Regions from separate parts of the Homo sapiens genome. Here region 1 is linked to region 2. Evidence: fine-mapped expression QTL. Tissue or cell type: tibial nerve. Region 2 holds a variant in brackets; the other region holds the start of a gene. All regions are shown on one strand. Distances are from middle to middle.

The links. PIP is the estimated chance that this variant, and not a neighbour inherited with it, causes the effect.
Region 1: it holds the start of ZFYVE28, and the variant in region 2 is fine-mapped to the expression of ZFYVE28 in tibial nerve (GTEx, PIP above 0.99). The same link has a PIP of 0.9 or more in esophagus muscle and whole blood.

The regions. Positions count from the first base shown.
Region 1 is chr4:2,413,641-2,421,739 of GRCh38, forward strand. ZFYVE28 (zinc finger FYVE-type containing 28) reads right to left here and starts at 5,005. Exons shown (of 13, transcript NM_020972.3): 1 at 4,645-5,005. The coding sequence starts at 4,683. CFAP99 (cilia and flagella associated protein 99) reads left to right here and starts at 5,315. Exons shown (of 16, transcript NM_001193282.4): 1 at 5,315-5,453. RefSeq lists enhancers at 1-172, 2,607-3,165, 3,166-3,724 and silencers at 4,730-4,889, 5,010-5,239, 5,480-5,529.
Region 2 is chr4:2,372,373-2,380,471 of GRCh38, forward strand. The region is part of intron 1 of ZFYVE28 (zinc finger FYVE-type containing 28); the gene reads right to left. LOC107986249 (a long non-coding RNA gene) reads right to left here and starts at 2,072. Exons shown (of 2, transcript XR_001741550.2): 1 at 1,980-2,072; 2 at 1-793. The variant T/C (reference allele first, on the strand shown) is at 3,217.

The DNA of each region.
Region 1 (8,099 bases), 41 kb after region 2:
CCTGCCACAGCTGGGCACTTGGAGTTTATCAGCTGAAAACGAATTCATCAGTAGCCTGGCTAGAAGTTATCACTCAAATCCCAAGTCCCTGGAACAGGGTCTGTGCTTGGCATGGGGCATGGACGCAGTGCTGTAGGGACAGCCATTCGTTTCCCAGGTGACGCAAAGCAGGGAAGTCAAGGCACATGCCAGTGACTGCCCTCTCATAGGCCCCACTCGTGCCAGGCCCCAGTGTCCACCAAGACCCCTCCCACAGCCTTCCAAGCCCCAGCTGTATACTTCTGGGGGATCTCTGTCATCGCCCCTCACCCTCAGCCACCAGTGGGGAGCCCCAAAAGGAGGACTGGGCTGCGCCTCATCTCTGCACTTCGGGACCAAACAGATATATCCAGACCTTGCCCCACCCCCCACTCTGGGGCCCGCCCCCATCTGCCACTTCGTTTCCAGGGTGCCGCCCCTCTCAACCAGGTGGCCAAGGTACAGAGTGCTGGCCACCAATGGGCAGCTCTCTTCAAGGGCCCATGACCAAGTGGGCTGGAACCCCGAAAACCCTCAGGTGACTGAGGCTGGGTTAACAAGAGCCGAAGGGCAGGAAGTCCCATACTCAGTACTGCTCAGTCCTGGCAGGTTCCCACAAAACATGCCAGTGGGGTTGGCACCCAGGCAGACTTTACCAAACCCAAAGGGGTCTTCTTTCATAAAGCACACACACCCAGCAAGTCACTCAGGCTTCTCTTGGCAAAGGCCATGTCATCGCTAATCTGGGCCTGGAATGTTTACAGGAAGTTGCCAAATACACATCACTCAGTAAGGCAGATTTATAAGGAATGTTCTCCTACAAAGCGGGGGGACAAGAAAGGTTAATAGCCCCCACTCTGAAAACGGTCTGGGGGTGCAGACAAGCGAGCTCTTCTCGGAGTGCAAGGTTGAGCATGGTAACCAGCCACATGGGAACTACCCCATCCACCCAGCCAGCATAACCCACTGAGGGTCAATTCCTCCTCAAAGATGGAAAACACAAATTCATCCTGAGTGATATTAATATGCTCTTTGGTGATGGCCAGGAAATCTCTCCCAGGTCCAGGTAAGTGTCCAGGTCCCTCTCCCCCATGCCGGGAATTCTCACCTCCTAGTGACCAGGAACTTCCAGCCAGGTCAATCAATAGAAAGTCATAACCAAGCAAGAAACACAGCACTGAGACTTTTGTTTCAGATGAAGACACCAACCATGCCAAAATGGTTTGCCTTTCTAAAGCATAAACTCTCTTGAAAAGACTTTAAAGAAAGGCAAGAAAGTATTTCACCAACATCAATAAAGCAGGACAAGCTGACAGGTTTTCCTGCACCGTCTCTTCCTGGGAGTGTTCAAAGTCAGGATAATACTTACAAGATCTGAACACTTTATACCAAGAAAAATCATATTGGTGTTTAAAAGACTGATTAAGAAAGTGAATAGAAATATAATTTGCAAATGTCATTTTAATGTTAAACTTTTGTATTATTCATCAGGCATTCTTTTACTCAACTTAGGTAGCTAACGTAGTAGCTAATTTTTATTCAGATATCAAAATGTATGTCACACAGGAATATTTTTCAGCATTTCCAATTGCTTTTTATAACTATAAGAACAGTGAATAATATTTTCATTTCAGAATATTTTCCACCATATTGTGATGAACAAGAAGCTCAGTGCTGGCCAAGCACAGTGGCTCACACCTGTAATCCCAGTGCTTCGGGAGGCTGAGGCAGGAGGATTGCTTGAGGCCAGGAATTTGAGTCCAGCCGGGGCAACATAGTGAGACCCTGTCTCTACACACACACACACACACACACACACACTTAAAAATTTATAAAAAGAAGCTCGCTGTGCAGTTTTAAACCAAAGCAGGAATTCAATTAAAAATTCAGTTTGAATTGTACATCTATCTAAATACAAAGTGGGAAAAAAATTCCTGACTGCAGGCAACAGTCTCCCCCAGACACATCCTCCCACAGCTAATGTTTAACACTTCAACTCTTCCAGGCCCAGAATCTTCCCAGGACTGACTTTGTGCTTATTTGTGCCAAAATGTGTTAAATTAGACAGGAAGGGGAAGCATAAAATTCAATTCATAATCCAAGGCAAGAATCTGAGCTTTGGTTTGAAAAATGAAAAGCTATGGAGTGACATAACATACTCCGACCCTTCAAACAATCAAGATATTTAACTCCAAAGACATTTCTCAAATAAGAGACAGCCCAAGTTCAGACTGCCCACAGGGCACCAGCTCCCAGAAAAATGCTATGGCCAGAGACAGATCTGAAATGGAGATACGTCTCAAGTCCAGAGCTCTGGAGCTACTACCAGACAGCATGCCAGGAGAAGACAACGAGAAAAAGGAGAGATCCACATCAATCCTGTTCCATCCCTTCTCCGGAGGCACACAGCTCTGGGCTGATCCCTGGGATCAGCTGATTCACTGGCTGTGCCCTCTTGGTGCCCGCCGCCTGCCTGGAAAGGCAGCTGCCTGCTGAAGAGGAAAAGTTGGGAACGCAATTCCTAATTCTCAGGACAACGTCTAGTACCATGTTCTACCTTTAACCTGTCTTCCCTAAACGGAAACAGACAAGGCCATCCTGAAATTACTCAGCTACTCATGAAACAGAGTCTACAATTATTTTTCCTTCCTTTTCAACACGATTAGAAGGGTGATCCCCCAAATGCGGCCTCTTCCACAGCCACGTCCGGAGGGGCATCCCCTAGTGTCCCAGCAAGTGCCTTCAGCGACACCAGAATGTTAGTTAAGACCTAAGACACATTTCTCCAGCTGCCTCCCGCCATTTGTCACAGAAAATAATGCTGCTGCACGCCCCCAAAACGCCGTTTTACAAGCAGACTTGGTTTTCAGTAACTGGTGAGGAAAAGTCACTGGAACCAAACACCATTCATACAGCTATCCAGAGCGGAGGCCACCGCCCTACCCCGGCAGAGGCACATGGGGGCAGCAGGCAGGACCGAGAGGGGCTCGAAGGCGCCGCAGGAGGAGAGGCTGGGCGCAGACGGCTCGGCCCCAAACCACACCCAGCGCCAGGAAACGCAAGGCTCGGGACGAACCCTTAAGAAGTCGCTGCTAGGGACAGGGAGGTTGGGAGCAGGGAGTGACGCCACAGGAACCCTGAATCCCCCCGAGTCCCCTCCCAATCAAGCCAAGGCCGAGCAAGGGGCGCCCCATGTACCGTAAGCCCTCAACCCAACACTCCGGCAACGACAAACAGAATTCCCCGACCTCAAAGGCCGTGAAGCACGCGCCCTTCGGGGCCCTGAGTGAGCCCTCAAACCTCCGTGCCGATCTTCCAAACCCACCTCCCGCCTTCCTGGAATGGGCGCACGCGAGGCACGGATTTCAGGAAACCTCTGCCGTGACAGCTCACCCACGGTGGAGGCGGAGGCCTGGGACGCTGGACGGAGAAAGGCGGCCAGTGGAGGGAGGAGGGGTAGGTCGGCAACGCGGTGGCCTCGGACGTCCGAGCTGCCCGGACGAAGCGCTGGCCCCACTCCCGCCCTTGGTCGCCGCGGTGACCCCACCCGAGCCGTGACCTCCCCCAAGATCTCAGGGCCCGGGCCTCCCCGCTGCGCCGGCCCCAGGGTGCCACCCTCGGACGCCCAGATGCGCCCTGGACCCTGCGCCGGGATCCTGAACACCGCCGCGCCTTCATCCCGCGCCGAGCGCGCCCGGCCCTGCTCCGGCTGCAGCGGGCACGAGCCCCAGGCGGGCGGCGGGGACGCAGCGCCCGCAGTGCGACTGGCGCAGCCGCTGAGGCACGGGGCGCGCCGCCCGGACCCCGACCCCGCGGCGCTAGGAGAGGCGCGGGCGCCGGCTGGAGAGCCGCACCTCCCGCCCCGCCGAGGCTGCTGGCCACGGGCGCGCTCGCCCCAAGGGCCGGGCGGAGGACCTGTCCCGGATTCCAGAGGACGTGGGTGGGGAAGGGACAAGGATAGGGACAAGGGAGGGGACGCGAACTGGGCCGAGGTGTGGGTCAGTCCTGGTTCGGGAAGGGAGGCCGTTGGCAGGGCCATCAGGATCCTCTCTGGACATGGAAGGACGGGTCTGCCCTGGACCCAGGGATTGGGAAATGTGGGTTCTCTCAGAACCTGGGGAAGTGGGGAGAGGGTCTGTTCTGGAGTGCGGAGGGAGATCTATTCCGGGCCCAGGACAATGGGGGTGGGGGCAGGACGGGAATGAGGGGGCATTCCTGGTGCAGGGAGGGGAGACGGAGAAGTAGTAGGGGGTCTGCTCCGGGCCCGCGGGCTGGGGACCACGAAGTGTAGGAGGGCACCGTCCAGGACCGGGATGAGGAGGGAGAGGGGCCCGTTGTGGCCCTGGATAGAGGGGGAGGGAAAGTGCGCCCCGGCCCGAGAGGAGGAGCAGGAGGGTCAGTCCTGGACCCGGGCTTAGGAAGCCGGGAGGGAGGTTCGGATCCGCCTCAGAGACAGGGCGATGAAGATCTGTCCAAGTCTTGGAGTGGAGGGAAGGATGTCGGCGGTGGGGGAAGAGGCCGGCCACGGACAGGGAAAGGGAGTCCGTCTTGTAGGGCGGACGGGCGGTCCTGGGGAAGGGAGAGGCCGCGACGCGGGGGGCGTCCGGCCCGAGCGGGGCCGCTCACCTTGGGTTTGTAGAGCCACTTTCGGAACCTGTTCATCATCGCCGCGCCGGCCCTGGCCGGACTCCGGGCGGCCCTCGCCCTCCGCAGCGCTGCGCCCGGGCCCGGCTGAGGCGCGGGGCGGACGCGGAGGCACGGCCGGAGCCCCCGCGCTGTCGCAGGGAGGCTGGCTAGCGAAGCCCGGAGCGCCGAGCGGGCGGCGGGCAGGTGCGCGGGGCAGGTGCGCGGCCCTGAGTATGCTCTGCAAGCGGCGCGCCGGGCAGACCTCAGACCCGGGAGTGGGCGCTCGGGCGCACGGACAGACGCGGGCACGGGGGCGCGCGGCTCCTCGCTGCTCACTGACACCCAGCGCTCCGCTGGTCACGGCCGCCCCGCGCCGCACATGCGCCTAGGGCGCCGCGAGCCCCGGGCCCACCGCGCGCTGCGGGCGGGGCGGGCGGGGCGGAGGCGGCCCAATCCCTGCGCGGGCGCCGCACCCCGCCCGAGGCGCGCTCCCTGCCGGCGGGGCGACCCGCCGCGCCCGGGTATCCAAGAAACTACAAGTCCCGAAAGGCATGGCGGGGAGGTGGCGCCCAGGGCTTGGCGTCCCGGGCCGCGCCGCGGCGCTGTGTATTGTGGGAGTTGTAGTCCACCCGATGGCGGCGGAGCGTGCCGCCGGTTGCTAGGTGACGACGCCAAACAGCCGCGGCGTCCTGCCTACCGGGAGCTGACGGACGACGACTGCCAACACCTTAGCCCCAGCTGGCCCAGGAAACTGCTGCGGTGGCAGGTGGCGGCGGCAGGAGGGCTCGGCTGCCCCGAGCGCCCGCCAGGTACGGGGGCGGGACAGGTGCGGGGCGACGCGCCGCCGATTTTCATGACCTGCCGGCCGGTTCCCTCTCGCTCGCTGCTCATCTTGCTTCTCCCAAACACCTCTTCTGTCTTCTTCCCAGCTCCCCGATGAAAGTGAACGGTGCCTCTTTTTTTTTTTTTAAATCACCACTATCAGCGGTGCGTTCTAAAAAGATACTCTTCCGCCCTCGCTACTCCCCCCAGTGGTGCCCTAATTTGTACCTTAAAACGCTCACCTCAATCTGAGTACCTGCTATGTGTCAAGCAGAGAGCTAAAAACCCACACGTGGCCTCACTTAAACTTCCCATTGACAGCCAGAGAAGCAGGCACAACGAGGCCGGCGTGCCCTGGCTGTGGGGGTTGCATCCAGATCACGGCGGATCTGGGTCGGCCTGACCCCACAGCGCTGCACTTTTCCCTGCCGCACCACCACCACGTCTCTGGCTTGTTGTGAAACGTGCAGATGTAAGACACAGGAGATGGAAGTCATGCCCCCCTCGGTTCAGAATTGAGAAGTCTGACCTGTTCCTGCTTGTCCTCACTGGCCAGTGCCAGGTGCTCAGAAAGGTCCGTGGGCTCCATGACCACTTTATTCCAACAGACGCGATGTGAGCCTAGGCGCGCTGGCATCTAAGATTTCTCTTAGTTGGGGGTAGGGTCCATGTTTATTTTTGAGTAACTGATTGATTTTCCCTACTCTCCTCTTCCTACCACCCAGTCGACCCTCTGAAGGGCAAAACCCCTCTGGAGTTTCCCCTTATCTCCAATTCCTTCCCACTTGTTCTTTCTGGAAACTACTCCCATCAGATTTTCACCCAACCACTCCTCTGAAGCTCTTTATCAAAGTCATCCTTGACCTTGATGTTGCAAAATCCGATGATCGGGGTCAGCGCTCATCTCTTCCTTGAACTGTCACTACCACGTGACCCAGCCGACTGTGCCCTCTCCGTGACACAGCATCCTCACTTGGCTGAAACAGATCCCACTGTCCACTTCTCCTCCTCGCTCCTGGCCACTCCTGCTTGATCTCCTTGGCTGGATGCCTCCCCTGCTCACCGACCTCTCAACACTGGAGACCCTGGACTCAGTCCTTGGAACCTACTCTATCCACTCCCTCCCTGGGGGATTTCCTACAGTTACATGGTTTTATAAACAACCATTTTCTCCCAAACTTCTCAAAACCTATATCTCTAGCCTCAACCCTGAAACTCCAGACCTGTTTACCTGTTCTTCACCATTTGGACGCCTAACAGATCCTCTCAAATTTAACGTGTCCCAAACCACACTCTCAGTCTTCCCCCATAAAACCTGCTGCTCCCAAAGCCATCATTTCTTCAGCACAGGATCTTGGGGTAGACACTTGATGGGCTTGTCCACTGAGTGAATGGCTGTTCTCTGTGGGTCTATCCTTGGCCAACTCCAAGGCCTGGAGCAGTTGTATCTGCTCAGAGGCTCCCTTCCTGTGTTTTATAGTTTGAAATTGTGCATGGGATGAAGGCTGAACTTGGGGAAGTGGGGTATCAGTTAGGTTTAGCTGCATGTATTGAAAAATCCCAACATCACAGTGGCCTAAACAAGAATATTACTCATATTTTTATAAAAGAGGTCCATGGAGAGGCAATCGTGGTTGGTATGGCAGCCCTAAAGTCCTCAAGGATCAGCTTTTCTATCTGCCATTCACGTTTCTTCATGATCCAGGATGGCTGCCCACATTCCTGCCATCACCTCCTCGGCCCAGGAACCAGCTGCAAAAGAGAAGATGGATATGCCTCTCTCGTTCAGGGAGACTTTCCAGAAGTCTCACACCTTTCCACTTCTTGAAGGTGGTGGGAGAACTTAGCCACACAACCATGCCCCAGCTGCCAGGGAGGCTGGGAAATGCCATCTTTCAATTGGGCAGCAGTAGACCCAGCTAAAAATCAGAGTTTTCTTATTTGGGAGGAAAGGGGTAGTGGAGATTGAAAAGCAACTAGCAAAAGCTGCCACGTGGGGTTGTGCTTTAAGCACAAGCCATAGGGGCATGACTTGGTAGCAACCCTTAGGAGACTGGCTTTAATCGGGAGAAAAGACTATATTTTAATTAACATACATTTGAGATCTTAGGTAAATGAGTTATCTCCTAGTGGTTGAGAGTGTTGAGCTGTTTTGTGTCTGATGGAATTTAAACCTCCTCATATAATCTCATTTGTGTCTATAAAATATTTCCTAAGGAAAGAGAAGCTTTAGTCTGCCCACCCTTTTTTTTTTTTTTTTTTTTTTGAGATGGCGTCTCGCTCTGTCGCCCAGGCTGGAGTGCAGAGGCACGATCTCAGCTCACTGCGACCTCTGCCTCCCGGGTTCAAGCAATTCTCTGCCTCAGCCTCCCAAGTAGCTGGTATTACAGGCACCTGCCACCACGCCTGGCTAATTTTTGTATTTTTAGTAGAGATGGGTTTTCACCATGTTGACTGGTCTGGAACTCCTGATCTCAAGTGATCTGCCCGCCTTGGCTTCCCAAAGTGCTGGGATTACAGGCATGAGCCACCGCGCCCAGCCTAGTCCAGCCCACCTTTAAAGTTGCCTTAAATATAAGATAGTCAAGTCCTGATCAATGGAGTTAAAATCAATATGAGAAAAAAATCTTTAA
Region 2 (8,099 bases):
CACCACCGCTCCCGCCATCCTCCTTCTAGTCCTCAGCATGCCCAGCAGGTTCCAGTGCTGGGTCTTTGGCCTCAAGGTTCACCCAACACCTGACTCACCCGATTCGGGTCTCTGCCTGGACGTCACCATCATCGAGGCCTCCTAGCCCCTCCAGCACGGCACCATGCCCTATCACCCCATCATGTGGGAGGGGTACACAGAGGTGCGGGCAGGCAGGGGTGCTGGGGTTCTGAACAGGGCCTGGATTCTGGGAAGGGACCTGATGAGGGAGGGCCTGCGGCTGGGCACGGGTGGGCACTGGCTGTCACTCCCTCCGCAGAGGCAGGGGCAGGCACTCCAGGGCTTCGCTGATTGTGTCAGTTAAACTCCGAGGGTTGGGGCTCATGATGGCAGAGCCAGCTGCCTCCCTGGACCAAGGATGCTGCACACCCCTAAGACCTAGCCTCCCCGAGGCCTCTCCCCATGGCTGACTCACTGCAGCCTGGACCCAGTCCCTACCCAGGGGCCCTCCTAGCACCCCCAGCCTCTCTGCCAGCCAACCTTGGACGACTAGGGAGGGAAAAACCACCGCATGCCCACCAGAAGACCACCACGTCTCTGGGCAGACACTCGGGGTACCCTTACCCTATGCCTGAGCCAGCCTCTACCCCCACAGCCACCCCCACCACAGGGACAGAAGGCTCAAGAATGCAGTGGCAGACAGACAGCATTCACCAGTCACCCAAAGTTGAATGAGATGATCCACTTCAGCTATGCTCAGACCTTCTTAGAGAGTGACCATGTCTGATAGGGCCTGTGAAATACAAAATGACTTTTAAATAATTTTTTATTATAAAAAGTATGAGCTGGGTGCTGTGGCTCGTGCCTGTAATCCCAGCACCTTGAGAGGCTGAGGTGGGAGAATTGCTCAAGCCCAGGAGTTCAAGACCAGCCTGGGCAACATAGTGAGACCTACATCTCTACAAAAAATTTAAAAATTAGCTGACTGTGGTGGCATGCACCTGTAGTCCCAGCTACTCGGGAGGCTGAAGTGGGAAGACTGCTTGAGCCCCAGAGGTTAAGGCAACATTGAGCCATGATCACGCCACTGCCACTGCACTCCAGCCTGGGCAACAGTGTGAGACCCTGTCTCAAAAAAATAATTTTAAGTATGGAAGTTCTGAAAAATGTAAAAGAAAAACAGTGTTTCCTGGAGCTGAAACACTGTCAACATCTTGGTCTTCTGCCTGTGTGAACCTGAGAACACATCGATCCATTCTTAATTGTCTCAAACCTTCAAGCAGGGGCTCTAGAACCCATGCAGTGGCAAACATGCACTCGTATGCCCTGGCAGAATCTCCGTTCCCCACGGAGCCCCTCAAATGCACTGATGTGTTCAGCTCATTCTAAAAGCTAGAGATGATGTGAGCAGCATACCACACGGTTTTAGTATATGATAAAACAGCAGCACAGAGCACATGCCACGCCTCTCCACTTTCAAAACCCAAAAAGTAGGGGAACGCACAGGGATTCCTGCCCAGGCCCTCCCTGTCATGCCCCAAGCCCTGCCTCCCTGTGTCCTCTCTCCTCAGCACCGCCCCCCATCTCTCCCAGCCCCTGGCTCTGCCTTTGCTACCTCATCCCAGCCAGTCCTGACCTTGGCCCTGACTGCCTGATCCACCAAGATGGGCTTCATCCAACCCATGGGTCTCCAAGAGCTCCTCACTCTGAACAGCAAAAGGTAATGTTTTTACTCTAAAATCATGATGTGTGCATGGTCACATACAGCCCACCATGTCCGTAGGTGCAGCCCTTCCAATCTAGAAAAAGCTCAGGGGCAGCCAGAGTGCAAGTACACGGAAAAAACCAGAACCCATGCAGAGATCTCTCTCAAAAATAATAACGTGTTTTCAACTAGTGTTGTTAGAAGCTGAAGGCTGTTAGTACAAGGACAGATGTCAGTCAGAATCCTGTTTCAGGCCAGGCATGGTGGCTCACACCTGTAATCCCAGAATTTTGGACGGCCAAGGCGGGAGGATTGTTTGAGTCCAGGAGCTCGAGACCAGCCTGTACAACACAGTGAGACCTCATCTCTATAAAAAAAAACAAAAATTAGCTGGATGTAATAATGCACACCTGTAGTCCCAGCCACTAGGGAGGCTGAGGTGGGAGGATCACTTGAGCCCAGGCAGGTTGAGGCTGCAGTGAGCTGAGACTGCGCCACTGCACTCCAGCCTGGGCGACAGAGTGAGACCCTGTTTCAAAAGAAGAAAAGAAGAAGAAGGAGAAGGAGAAGGAGGAGGAGGGGGAAAATTGGTTTTTAAGCAAGTATTTGTGTGCTCATATAGAAAAATGCCCACATATCTATGAAAGAAACCTAAACTTTTAAATTGAACTCATATAAACCCCAACATCAGACGCTGTGGCTCCTGCCTCATCTCCCCACCTTTGGGCAGAAACTTGATGTTCTTTCTAGAAAGTTCTTAGGACATATCTTTGTACCCAGCCCCACATGCCACATTCGGCTCCTCCTCGGTGGGTTTGTGGCTCAGCAGCATGTGATGACCATGTCCCCTGTTGGCACCTGGTGCCCGTGGATAAGGACAGAGCCCAGTCCTCCTGTGGAAGACCCTGAGGTTCCAGACAGAATCCTCCTAAGTCCTTGTCTTTCTCTACTGCTTATGAAAGTGTAAACTCAGATGATATGAACAGCAGTTCAGACCTCCAGTACAAAGCTCTGAAAGTGCCGTGGCCTTTCCCAGGCACTGGCCCCTGGGCTCACGTCCCCTTCCCTCCCTGCTGCTGTGGCAAAATGCGGAGCCACCGTGGCTTTTCCAAGAAAGCTTTTCCCCGCAGCCTCGGGGAAGGTGGCTTTCTCTTCTTATCCTCAAGCCCTCTTTTTACAGGAAAATGTTATAATTAAGTCATTCCAACTGATTTTAAGCAACTTTGCATCAGTAGGGGGTTAAGTTCTAACAAGGCCCAAATCACCCAGGGTCAATCAGCCGGGCCAGCATCGAAGGAGGCCCCGGTACCTCCCCAAGGGTTCTGCCGGGCTCTTCCCCCTGCTGGACAGCAGTGGCTCACACTGTGACCCCCAGATAAAGTCACGACTTGGTGACCAAACTGAATGAATCCACACCCAGCCAGGTGCTGGCTCATGCCCACTGACAAGAATGAGCAGCGGCTGAGCTCACTGCATTTGCTTGTGCTAAAGGACGGTGTGAGGAGGTAGCT[T/C]GCCCCACACACTAACCCCTCAACTCCTCCATGGACCAGGAGGAGAGGAAACGACGTGGCGCCTGCCCTGGGGGCGGGACACAGGACTGTGCCGCCCCCACCTCTTATCACAGGCTGAGAAAGCACCGCCCCACACACAAGGGGCATCCCACTGACAGCCTCCACCCCTCCCTTCTAACCCTACCATGTGGGGCGATTGGAGCCCCAGATTTCAGAGTTCACCATGAATGTGCAAGATCTCATAGTTTTCATATTGATTATATGTTAAAACAATATTCTGGTCAAATAATTTTTTTTTTTTTGAGATGGAGTTTCGCTCTTTTTGCCCAGGCTGGAGTGCAATGGCACAATCTTGGCTCACTGCAACCTCTGCCTCCTGGGTTCAAGTGATTCTCCTGCCTCAGCCTCCCAAGTAGCTGTGATTACAGGCGCCTGCCACCACGCCTGGCTAATTTTTTGTATTTTTAGTAGAGACGAGGTTTCACCATGTTGGCCAGGATGGTCTCAATCTCTTGACTTCGTGATCCGCCCGCCTCGGCCTCCCAAAGTGCTGGGATTACAGGCATGAGCCACCGTGCCTGGCCCCAAATAAAATATTATTAAAATTAATTTCACCTGTTTCTTTTACTTTTTTTTTTTAATGTGGCTACTAGAAAATTTCAAATTGGCCAGGCACAGTGGCTCAGACTTATAATCCCAGCACTTTGGGTGGCTGAGGTGGGAGGATCATTTGAGCCCAGGAGTTTGAGACCAGCCTGGGCAACATAGTGAGACCCTATCTCTAAAAAAAAAAAAAAAAAAAAAAAAAAAGTTTTTAAATTCGCCAGATGTATTAGTCCATTCTCACACTGTTATGAAGAAATACCTGAGACTGGGTAATTTGCAAAGGAAGGGGGTTTAACTGACTCACAGTTCTGCATGGCTGGGGAGGCCTCAGGGAACTTACAACCATGCAGAAGGTACCTCTTCACAGGGCAGCAGGAGAGAGAGTGAGTGCCAGCAGGGGAAATGCCAGACGCTTATAAAACCATCAGATCTCCTGAGAATTCACTCACTGTCATGAGACGAGCATGGGGGGAACTGCCCCCTTGATTCAATTACGTCCCATCAAGTCCCTCCCACGACATGTGGGGATTATGGGATTACAATTCAAGATGAGATTTGGGTGGGGACACAAAGCCAAACCATATCACTGGGTATGGTGACATGACCCTATGGTCCCAGCTACTTGGGAGGCTAAGATGGAAGAATTCCTTGAGCCCAGGAGGTTTAGGCTGCAGTGAGCCAAGATTGCACCACTGTACACCAGCCCAGGCAACAGAGCGAGACCCTGTCTCAAAAAAAATAAATAAATAAAATAAAAGTGTATACGTGTTGCTTGCACCCAAAGCTCTCACATCCTATTTCTATTGGACAGCACTGGTCTAAGACTTTACTTTTTTTTTTTTTCTGAGACGGAGTCTCGCTCTGTCACCCAGGCTGGAGTGCAGTGGCGCGATCTTGGCTCACTGCAAGCTCCACCTCCCGGGTTCACGCCATTCTCCTGCCTCAGCCTCCCGAGTAGCTGGGATTACAGGCGCCCGCTACCACGCCCAGCTAATTTTTTGTATTTTTAGTACAGACAGGGTTTTGCCGTGTTAGCCAGGATGGTCTCGATCTCCTGACCTTGTGATCCGCCCGCCTCGGCCTCCCAAAGTGCTGGAATTACAGGCGTTGAGCCACTGCGCCCGGCCTAGGGCTTTACTTTTATCTCTATTTTAGGACACACATAATTTCTTAAACAATTATGAGCTAAACTCGCTGACATTTTATCAGTTTCCACCCTTGCAGCTGTTTCTTTTATCCCATCATCTTTCCTCCGAGTTCCCTTTTCTTGCTGATGTACATCTTATAATAGGAAATGTTACAACGAGCATCTGTAAATGGTTAAAAATGTTTGCCTGAAAAATGTCTTCATCTTGCCTTCTGCCCCTTCACTAGCAGTTCATTTGGGTCTAAAATTCGGGGCTGCCAGTCGCCTTCCCGCCGCACTGTGGGCTCATTCTCTATCTTGCGGCACTTGGGGTTGCTGAGAAGAAACCTGCGGGGCTTTTTCCATTTCTCGTAGTTACTCTGTCTTTTCTGTTAATTCTAAAGATTCTCTTCATCTTTGACATTCTGCAGCTTTACCACAATACATCTCAGTGTGGATTTACTCCCAGGTATTTCTGAACGATGTGAATATGTTCTCAGAACGGTGTTGTCAATTGACTTCATTATTGTGCAAACATCAGAGAATGGACTTCCACAAGCCTAGATGACCCCGCCTCCGACAGACCTAGGCTACATGGTAGAGCCTGTTGCTCCTGGGCCACAAACCTGCACAGCACGTTACTGTGCTGAACAGTATACTGTAGACAACTGTAACACAATGGGAAGTATTCGTGTACCTAAACAGAATAGGTACAGTCAAATACGGTTATCCTAACAGGCTGGGCGCGGTGGCTCACGCCTGTAATCCCAGCACTTTGGGAGGCTGAAGCGGGCGGATCATTTGAGGTCAGGAGTTCGAGACCAGCCTGGCCAACATGGTGAAAACCCCATCTCTACTAAAAATGCAAAAATTAACCAGGCACGGTAGTGCACGCCTGCAGTCCCAGCTGCCGGGGAGGCTGAGGCGTAAGAATTGCTTGAACCCGGGAGGCGGAAGTTGCAGGGAACTGAGATCACACTACCACACTCCAACCTGGGTGACGGAGCAAGACCCTGTCTCAAAAAAATAAAAAAATATCGTTATCATAACTTATGGGACCACCATTGTATATGTGGCCTGTCACATGGCCCATGACTGCACATTTCTTTATCCTACTTGGAACTCCTTTTATCTCAGAACTCATGTCTTTCTTCAATACTGGGAAATTCAGCTACCATTTCTTCAAATACAGCTTTTCCATCATTCTTTCCTCTCCACTCTCTCCCTGGGACTCCTATGAGACACTTTTTGGAACTTCTCCACTGAACTTTGATGCTTTTTCCTTCTTTCTTAGGGAAGCTGCCCGACTCCCGGCTGGGGCTGGTCCTCCTGTGGACTGTGAGGCAGCACCCTGTCATTTCCTCTGTACTGCTTTCCTGGATTGAGACTAGGTATTGATCCACCCCTGCTCCATCCACCCACCCAACCACGAATTTTGGAGCCAGCCAAAACGACTACTTGTTTTTGTTTCAGACCCGATACCCAGCCTTTCATTCTCCCAGGGCCTGCCACAGATCTTGATTATTCCCAAAGAAAGAAGAGGCAAACTGAAGCCAAATCAGAATCAAGGTCCACCTGCCCCTTCCCAAACCACCTTAGACTCCCACAAGGGTGGAAGCTGGTGCCAGAGGCTCTGAGCAGAGGGCTCTTCCTCTATGGGGTACATCTGCACCTGGATGTTTCTGGGCTCCAGGCATCCTGGTGAGCCACTGGGAAGGTGTCCAGAACTCCAGGGGCCTGGCTGTCTCATGACAGCAGGGGGTAGACGGGGGCTGGTCACATGGACAGACAGCATCTGAGAGTGGCCAAGCCCCCCAGTCTGCACCATGCTGGCAGCAGAACCCGTGCCAGAGAGCAAGGAGGTGTGGGCATTGGGGGGACCGCTCCAGGGAGAGACAGAGCCCTCAACAATCAAAGAAAGCAATGGGAGGGACTTACAGTTTCCTCATCTACCAAGAAAAGGAAATCTCAGAATCCCATCTTCTGTCAGACCCGGGAGCAGGTGGGCAGTGCAAGGATTCTCGGCCCTCCCAGGCCAGGAGCTGTCCCCCTATGCCAGGACCTCAAATTTAAAGCTCTCTCCTCTTAACAGAATCAGGAAAAACCAAGCTGACAGCTAAAATGTTCGGCTGAAGTTCACAAGAATGTAGAGGCTCAGATTGTCAGCACATTATAATCATTGACATTTAGCAACAAAATTGGCCCATCACTCCTGGACGACAAATCGCCCCCATCTGACTGCCCCTCCTTAATAAATAGGGCAGGACTCCTCCTGTGCAGAGATGGCACGCGCACCTCTGCCAACTCGAATTCACATTGCCACCCCACCTCCCTCCTGTAATTTTATCCTCATGGGATACATTTCTATGCTTCAAAGTCCTTACTGATCATCTATCAAATTTTTCTACAACATATATATCAATATTACATATTTATAAATCTATAAATGGGATTTAAATTTTTAAATTTTCACACTTTTTTTTTTGAGACAGAGTCTTTCTCTGTCACCCAGGCTGGAGTGCAGTCGCACAATCTCAGCTCACTGCGGCTTCCATCTCCCGGGTTCAAGCAATTCTTGTGCCTCAGCCTCCCAAGTATCTGGGATTACAGCCATGAGCCACAGTACCCAGCTAATTTTTGCATTTTTAGTAGAGATGGGGTTTTGCCATGTTGCCCAGGCTGGTCAAATTTTTAAATTTTCTGTGAGGCACTGAGTGTTAGCATTTTCTCTGCACTGAGTCGACAATGTAGACACTGCAATTACTTTTGCAACAACCTAATAGTATTAGTATACAATCGATCAAACAACATAAACATGTGACACATCTTGGTACACCATCATTTCACAGAAAGGTGTCTCATAGAAATGTAGTTCTTGATGGGGTGGATGCATCCGGGGTTTTCTGACTAGCTGTTGTCTCTTTGGGTAACTCACTAGTTGCCAAAGTAGGCTGGCCTCAGCTGCAATGCTGTTCCTGCGTTTTGACTTAGGTAAGTGCCAAGAAACCTGCTCTCATGGCTGAGTTAGCAGGAGCGGGGAGAGCAATAGAGGAACTTCCTGCCACTCCAAGAACAACTGCCGAGTTATCGGCTAAGAATCATTGCTTCATGACCAAAAGTCATTCTTAACGCCCTGTCAGCTGCAACTCAA